Linked DNA regions of Homo sapiens. The protein of the gene in region 1 purifies or fractionates together with the protein of each later gene. This does not show direct contact. Each region holds a gene or a part of one and is shown on either strand. Other genes may lie near its edges.

Evidence for each region.
Region 2: the proteins of ACP7 (region 1) and MYCBP2 purify together in Homo sapiens (affinity purification with mass spectrometry; 2 studies listed by BioGRID and IntAct, with this or other methods). This does not show direct contact.

The regions. Positions count from the first base shown.
Region 1 is NC_000019.10:39,108,096-39,112,012, forward strand, and holds the end of ACP7 (acid phosphatase type 7 isoform 1 precursor), read left to right. Parts: intron 1-1,957; coding exon 1,958-2,023; 3' UTR 2,024-3,398; downstream 3,399-3,917.
Region 2 is NC_000013.11:77,320,178-77,324,094, forward strand, and holds part of MYCBP2 (E3 ubiquitin-protein ligase MYCBP2), read right to left. Parts: intron 1-3,917. UniProt on the Homo sapiens protein: Atypical E3 ubiquitin-protein ligase which specifically mediates ubiquitination of threonine and serine residues on target proteins, instead of ubiquitinating lysine residues.

The DNA.
Region 1 (3,917 bases):
CTCCTGCTGCTTACCAGCTGAGTGACCTTGAGTCACTCATCTAATTTTTTTTTTTTTTTTTTGAGATGGAGTCTCGCTCTGTCACCCAGGCTGGAATGCAGTGGTGCAGTCTTGGTTTACTGCAACCGCCACCTCCCAGGTTCAGGCAATTCTCCTACCTCAGCCTCCCGAGTAGCTGGGATCACAGGCGCCCACCACCACACCCGGCTAATTTTTTGTATTTTTAGTAGAGACAGGGTTTCACTGTGTTGGCCAGAATGGTCTCGAACTCCTGACATCAGGTGATCTGCCTGCCTCAACCTCCCAAAGTGCTGGGATTACAGGTGTGAGCCACTGTGCTGGGCCCACTTATCTAACTTCTTTGCCTCAGTTTTCCCATCTGTGAGAGGGGATAATCATAGTTTCCACCTCACAGGACTACATGGGGGTTGAAGGACTTATTATATATAAAATGCTTAGAAGAGTGCGGAACTTGGTAAATTCTGTAGGTATTTACCATTGTGAGGCAGGGGAAGATAAAGATGGGGGGTGGGACACAGGTAGGGGAAAACAATAAGATGAGTATGTGGTACAGGTGGCTTAAGGTTAGGTGGATCCAAATAATAATGGCTCACCTTTCTTTATTTTTGCCATTGTAGTTTTAAAATAATGACAATATTTATGATTTATTGAGCACCTACTGCATACCAGGCACTGCCTAGATGCTCTGCATTTAGTAGCACTTTATTTATTTATTTGTTTTTGAGACAGAGTTTCACCCTGTCGCCCAGGCTAGAGTGCAGTGGTGCAATCTAAGCTCACTGCAACCTCCACCTCCCAGGTTCAAGCAATTCTCCTGCCTCAGCCTCCCGAGTAGCTGGGATTACAGGCACATGCCACCACACCCGGCTAATTTTTTGTATTTTTAGTAGAGATGGGGTTTCACCATGTTAGCCAGGCTGGTCTTGAACTCCTGACCTCAGGTGATCCACCCACCTGGGCCTCCCAAAGTGCTGGGATTACAGGCATGAGCCACCGCATGCGGCCCCAGTAGCACTTTATACACCAAAACAATCCCACAGGAGTGGATTTCCTCTCCATTTTATAGGTGAGGGAACTGAGGCTCAGAGAGGGGAAGTAATTTTCCCAGGGTCACACAGTTGGAGGACGGCCAAGCTGGGATCTGATAGCTACCATTTATCGAGTGGCACATGCACCGGGCGCAGACTTTTGTGTGCATGATCTCACTCTGTTCTCATGATGACTCTGGGCATCTATTACTTTGTGCATTGCATAGAACATGGAAGTTTTGCTCAGAGAGTCCAGCAACATGCTTAAGGCCACCTAGAGGGTGGATGCGCTGGCCAGGTGCAGCAGCTCATGCCTTTGGGAGGCTGAGGCAGGCGGATCACTTGAGGTCAGGAGTTCGAGACCAGCCTGGCCAACATGGTGAAACCTTGTCTCTAGTAAAAATACAAAAATTAGCCAGGCATGGTGGTGCATGCCTGTAATCCCAGCTACTTGGGAGGCTGGGGCAGGAGAATGGCTTGAACCTGGGAAGCGGAGGTTGCCACTGCACTCCAGCCTGGGTGACAGAGCAAGACTCTGTCTAAAAAAAAAAAAAAAAAAAAAAAAGGAGAGAGAGAGAAAGAGTGGATGTGCTGGAATATAAAGCAAGGTCTGTCTGACTCCAGAGTTTGTGCTCTAATAATAGCCTACACTTACATAGCCCTTTCCATATGCTGGGCTCTGTTTACAAATACTATCTCATTTAACTCCCACAACATCTATGATGTGGGTACTGTTACTCTTCCTATCACTTTTCAGATGAGGAAAACTGAGGCCCAGAGAGGCCTAGCCACTTGCTCAGGGTTGTACAGCCCATCAGAGGGCAGAGAGGGGACTGGAACCCAGGCCATGTGGCCCCAGAGTTCAGGCTTTCAGCTCTAACTACTGTCCCTGTTTTTGTCCCTCACAGGATGGGAAGATCGTAGATGATGTCTGGGTGGTGAGACCCCTGTTTGGCCGGAGGATGTACCTCTAGGGATGGCGGCAGCTCTCCTCCAGAAGCCTAGGTTTTGCCGCCTTGGCTGCTGTGACCAGAAACTGCCCAGGCCTGGGTGGGGAGTTGGGTGGGCCCTGACTCCCCTGCCCTCCAGAGGCCCCATGTAGGGTACATGCAGCCCTATGGAGCTGGGGCAGCTGTTCCCTCCTGGAGAGGTGGGAGTCCTGGCTGGCTGTGGAGGGAGGGCAGGTGTGCGGGCACAGAGTGACACACGGCAGGTTTCTGCTGGCAGGGCCCCACCCTCCTGCATAGCTCTGATCGGGCGAGGTGCCCACGGGGCTTCAGGAATGAAGAGGCTTAAGCTCTGGCTCCATGGATTCTGCACATCTGCGGGGGATGCCGCTGGGCTTCCTCCTCTCCTGCCCACCTGGCAAGGGCATCGCCAGGTGGGCACAACCGTCATGACACTACTCACCAGCAGGTGGCGTCAGGGGCTTTTTCTTCTGAGCCCGGCACTGAGAGTTGGTCTGAAGCCTGGCTCCTTCTTCACTGCTCCAGGACTGCTATGAAGAGTCCCTTCATGCCTCAGTTTCCCAGCCTGGCACCATCTTATTCGGGAAGAGGAGACGTGTTAACACTCTTGCCTCCTAGCTAGGACAGATGACAAACCGCAAGAGCCACAGACTTGCCAGTTCCTTCCCTCTTTCCTTCCTTTCTTTCCCTTCTTTTATTTATTGAATCATAATTTATTGAGCATCTACCATGTGCCAGGCTCTGTTCTCAGTGCTGGAGAGACAGCTGTGAATGAGACAGAGATCTCGGCCCTCACAGAGCTGACATCCTAACCAGAGAGTTGGACAAAAATCACGATAAATGAGTTGGTTAAATAGCGATTTGTGAGTAGAAAACGCAGGGACGGTGAGAGAGCAGTTTCAATTTTCAGGGGGATCTCACTGAGAGGGCAACATTTGATCTGAAGGAGGTGGGGAAGGAGCCAAGTGGGCAGACATCTGGGGGAAGAGCATTCCAGGCAGAGGAACAGCCAGTGCAAAGGCCCTGAGACAGAAATGTGCCTGGCCGGCTGGGTACAGTAACTCACATCTGTAGTCCCAGCACTTTGGGAGGCCGAGGCGGGCAGATCACTTGAGCCCAGGAGTTTGAGACCAGCCTGGGCAACACAGCGAAACCCTTTCTCTACCAAAAATATGAAATTTAGCTGGGCATGGTGGTGTGTGCCTGTAGTCCCAGCTGCTCAGGAGGCTGAGGCGGGAGGATGGCTTGAGCCCAGGAGGTTGAGGCTGCAGTGAGCCATGATTGCGCCACTGCACCCCAGCCTGGGCAACAGAGCAAGACCCTGTCTCAAAAAATATATATAAATAAAAAAGTTTTAAAAAGAGAAAAATAAACAAAGAAACGTGCCTGCCCTGTTGGAGTGTCCACGAGGAGGCCACTGTGGCTGGAGCAGGGAGAGTGAGAGGGAGACCAAGCTTGAGGACAGGGCAGTGGTGGGGATGGCTTGTATGGAGCCTTACAGGCCACGGTGAGGACTTTGGGTGGAGCCAGGGGAGGCTCTGAGCAGGTGAAGGAAGTGATCGGACTCCACGAGTCACAGGCAAAGGCCCCAGGGCTGACAGCTGCCCCAGGGCCTGCGGGCTCCCAGCCCTGCCAGATGACCTGAGATCTATCTATTCCCCCGTCATGGGGCGCGGTTTCTGCCTCCACAGATTTCATTCCCTCCCACCCGCCCCTCACTTGGCCCAAGGCACGCAGGACTCCTTGCCGTTCCTGGAACACAGCCAGCTCTTTCTCACTGCGGGGCCTGGGCGCTGGCTGTCTGCCCCCTGTGTGCCCTCTCCCCAGCTCATCCCAGGCTGGCGCCTTCTCAACCTCAGGTCTCAGACTCGGTGTCCCCTCCTCAGAGGCCTTCCCTGCT
Region 2 (3,917 bases), on another chromosome or scaffold:
GCATGACTCTGGGGGAGGCAACTCTTGGCTCAGGGCAATGCGTGGAGTGGGACTCAGCTGCAATCAGTTTTAGCTGCCAATATTGCCAAGAGCTAGGGGAACATGTGCCTGAAAGCGGGATCTGAAAGCCTAACCACAGCACCTGCCACACCACCACTGGACTATTACACCAATTTGGCTAATGAGGGAAGAGAATTAAGCATTTATGCTGCTGGATTAGGAGAAACTACATTTCACTGACAGTCAGTGAAGGCCAACTCTTCTTTGCAGAAGAGTACCAGCTAATAAACATAGAAGAAATAACAGAATTATTTTTTAATTCATCATTTTGCAACCCCTAATGAAATTATTGACTCAGACAAGGATTATCAAAGAATGCTAAAAGCATTAGGTAAAAGGCATTCACAATGTGCTCAAATTTTTACCCTGTGATTACTTGTTCTTTACAAATGGAAAAAGCATACATTTACAGAGATGAAATCTAGTAGGTACCGTCTTACCCAAGTAATCAGATTTAACATATTAAATAGTGAGACAACCTCACAACCTCTGGATGGGATGCAACATGCAGTACCCAGCGCCATATACAATATTCTTGCTAAAAAATTTTCTAATGAACACCTAATAAACCCTTAAGGTCTAGCTTCCACTTACAGGAAATACAGATACAAGACAGAAAGATGAACAATACCTGGGGGCCCTGCCCTTAAGGAGCTAGATTTATATGACATTCTAGAAAAGGTAAAATATTAGTGACAGAAAACTGATTTGCAGCGGTCAGTAACCAGGGGTAGGAGGGCCTGACAGAACTTTTTATATGAAGTGATGGAAACAGTCTATACTTGACTGTGGTGATAGTTTCAGGACTCTTCAAATGAACATTTAAAGAGGATGAATTTTATTGTATATAAATTAAACCTCAATTAACCTAACCCCTCCTCAGAAAACCTAAATGTTTAATCTGGTTTTTGAGAAAAAAGTGAGACTATTCTGTTGATTTTTTAAACAAATATATTAAAGGACAAAAGTATTTTTAGATTGACATTTTTATTTTCCTTTTAAGCCCAGAGGCAAGATTTTTTTCTTCTCTTGAGTTAGGAAACTAATTCATTTCACATTTCTACCTACCAGTATACCAATAGAGCAGTTTTTGCCTTAACTTGTGTTTATACACTATACAGGATTCCACTGATATAACAGCTACATGAAGAAAATTACTACCTATGCACAAATACAGATGTACACATACAGATTCAATCCCGCATTACTTCCTGACATATTCCTACAATAAATAACGTCTCTTCATAGCTTAAAACCATCAAGGGTGATCAGTGTCTACTGAATAAAATCTAATTCTTACCTTGGTCTTCAAGATGCCCCATCCTAGCCAAAGCCTCCATTTCCAGAATGAATTCCACTACTGTCCTTCATGACACCTGCATTCTAGCTCTAACAGAATTCCTACTGTTACCTACATACAAACTGTGCTTTCCTGTCTCTGCTGATGCTTTTAAGCCAGCCTAGAATGCCATGCCTTTGTCATAGTAGGTTATACTTTCTTGGTCATTTCATTTAACACTTCTATAAGTATCTGCCTTTGTATCTTGCACTTCCAGATAGACAGTAAACTCAAGTCTAGAATTTGTGTCTTATAAATTTTTATAGGGCCAATGGTTAGTGCCAAGTAATAATCCCTGAGCAAGCTGAGCATGGTGGCTCACACCCATAATCCCAGCACTTTGGGAGGTGGAGGTGGGAGGATCACTTAAGCTCAGGAGTTCAAGACCAGCCTGGACAACATGGTGAGACCCTGTGTCTACAAAAAATAAAAAACAAGCCAGGCATGGTGGTGCATGCCTGTAGTCCCAGCTACTGGAGGAGACTGAGGCAGGAAGATCACTTGAGCCCAAGAGGTTGAGGCTGCAGTGAGCTATGTTCACACCATTGCACTCCAGCCTGCCTCAAAATAAGTAAAATAAAATAATCCCTGAACTTTTGCTAAAATGACTACTTAACCTCTTACAACCAAAATCCCATGCATCTGAAGGATGGACTCAAATACCATTTCTAACAAGAAAGAGATAAAGCAGCTGAAAAAACTAAGGGGGTTAAGTTTAGATTCCCCATTTTGGTCACAATCCCCTCTATTGTTTTCACTAACATTGTTCTTCTAGGACTTCAGGACCCAGATACTCTGACTCCTCTTTATCTTCCAGTCTATCAGTTCCCTCTTGGCATCACTTTCCTTTTTACCATATAGTCAAACACTGTCCCCAAAACCTTCCATTTCTTTTTTCTTTAACCCTAAATCAACTCAACTAGGTTTTCTCCATTTCTATTTTGTGTGGAAAAACATACAGTGCCATGCTGGTTGGAATTTTAAATGTGATTTTAATAATAACAACAGGTAACATTTCATGGGCACTTACCAGGTGCGGACATAATGTCCTTTTGATAACACTACAAAGTTACAAGTAAAGAAACAGACAAAGTCTAATTAACTTGCCCAATTTAACACAAGTAGAAAAAGGTAGACGTGAACTAAGGGAGTCTACCTCCAGTGCTCTAACATTTAGCCACTGTGCTATGGTGCCTCCCAAGTGCATGGTTATACCACCATTCACATTCAGAACAGATCATACATTCCTTCATACATTTCCTGTCCAACCCCTTTCCCCAACAGAATGTTCCGATTTTGATTGGCCTCATTCATCCAAAAATATATCTATTCAGTCACTGGATAAATGAAAGAGTTATTCCCACATTCTACACAGTCACTGAGACCAAAAATAAAAGAGTAAGACATGATCCTTGCCTTCTCTTCAAGTCCCCACACCCCTCATTCTCAGCAAAAACAAACAGACAAAAAACAGTAACTAATATTTCATAGCAGTCAACATGCCAAGCACATACATTGATTCATTTAATCTACAAAACAATTCATGTTAGTATTATGATCCCCATTCTACATATTTAAAAAACTGAGGCATAGAAGTTATGTAATATACTCAAAGTTACACAGCTAGCAAATGACAAAACCAGGATGCAAAACCAGTCTAGCTTCTGTGCCCAAGCTCTTAACCACTTTGTTAGACTGTCATCAAAGTCACTGAGTCCATTAGGTTTGAAACTCTCAACTTCTCAACTGTACACCTAAAGCAAAGAGTAATTAATTCATTTGACATTGACTGATAACTCACTCATCATGTTTTTGTTTCTTGAACACAAGCCTGTTCCCATTTCAAGGCCTTTATAAATTCCCAGAACATTCTTCCTCTACATCTGCCTCCTCATCATGGCAATTCAATTTAAATGCCAACTCTCAAAGAGACATTTCCTGACCATGTTACCTAAAATAGCCCCACTACAAATTGCCCTATCACATGAAATAGGTTTTATTGCCTTCACAGTTACTTATTACTAAGTGAAATTATGAGTTGTCTATTTCTCCCATTGGAGTGGATTTTCCAAGACGGCAGAGACTTTGTCTATCTTGCTCACCGCTACATCTTCAGCATCTGCAATACTGCCTGGCACAGAGCAGGCACTTGATGTTTACAGAATTCATGCCAAAAAATGTGCTAGACATTGGGATTATCAAAACGAATAGGATATGATGCCTATCCTCAATAAACTCCCAGTCTTTATATTTACAAGTACTCACCTCCACCCCTTCTATATTAACTGCTCCTTTTTTCAATGGCTAACCTCTCCACCTGTCACCTTAACTCTATCCCTGAGATCCCTTTGACCTCTTCCTGTCCCTGAGATCCCTTTGACCTTTTCCTATCAATTATCCCCTCTCTCACTTCTTCACTCTGTCTCTCCATTTAGCCTCCCATATTTGCATATCCCACCCAACCTCCTATACTTGAATATCCTTCCCTCAACTTTGAAATCCCCTTGAGTTACCAAAA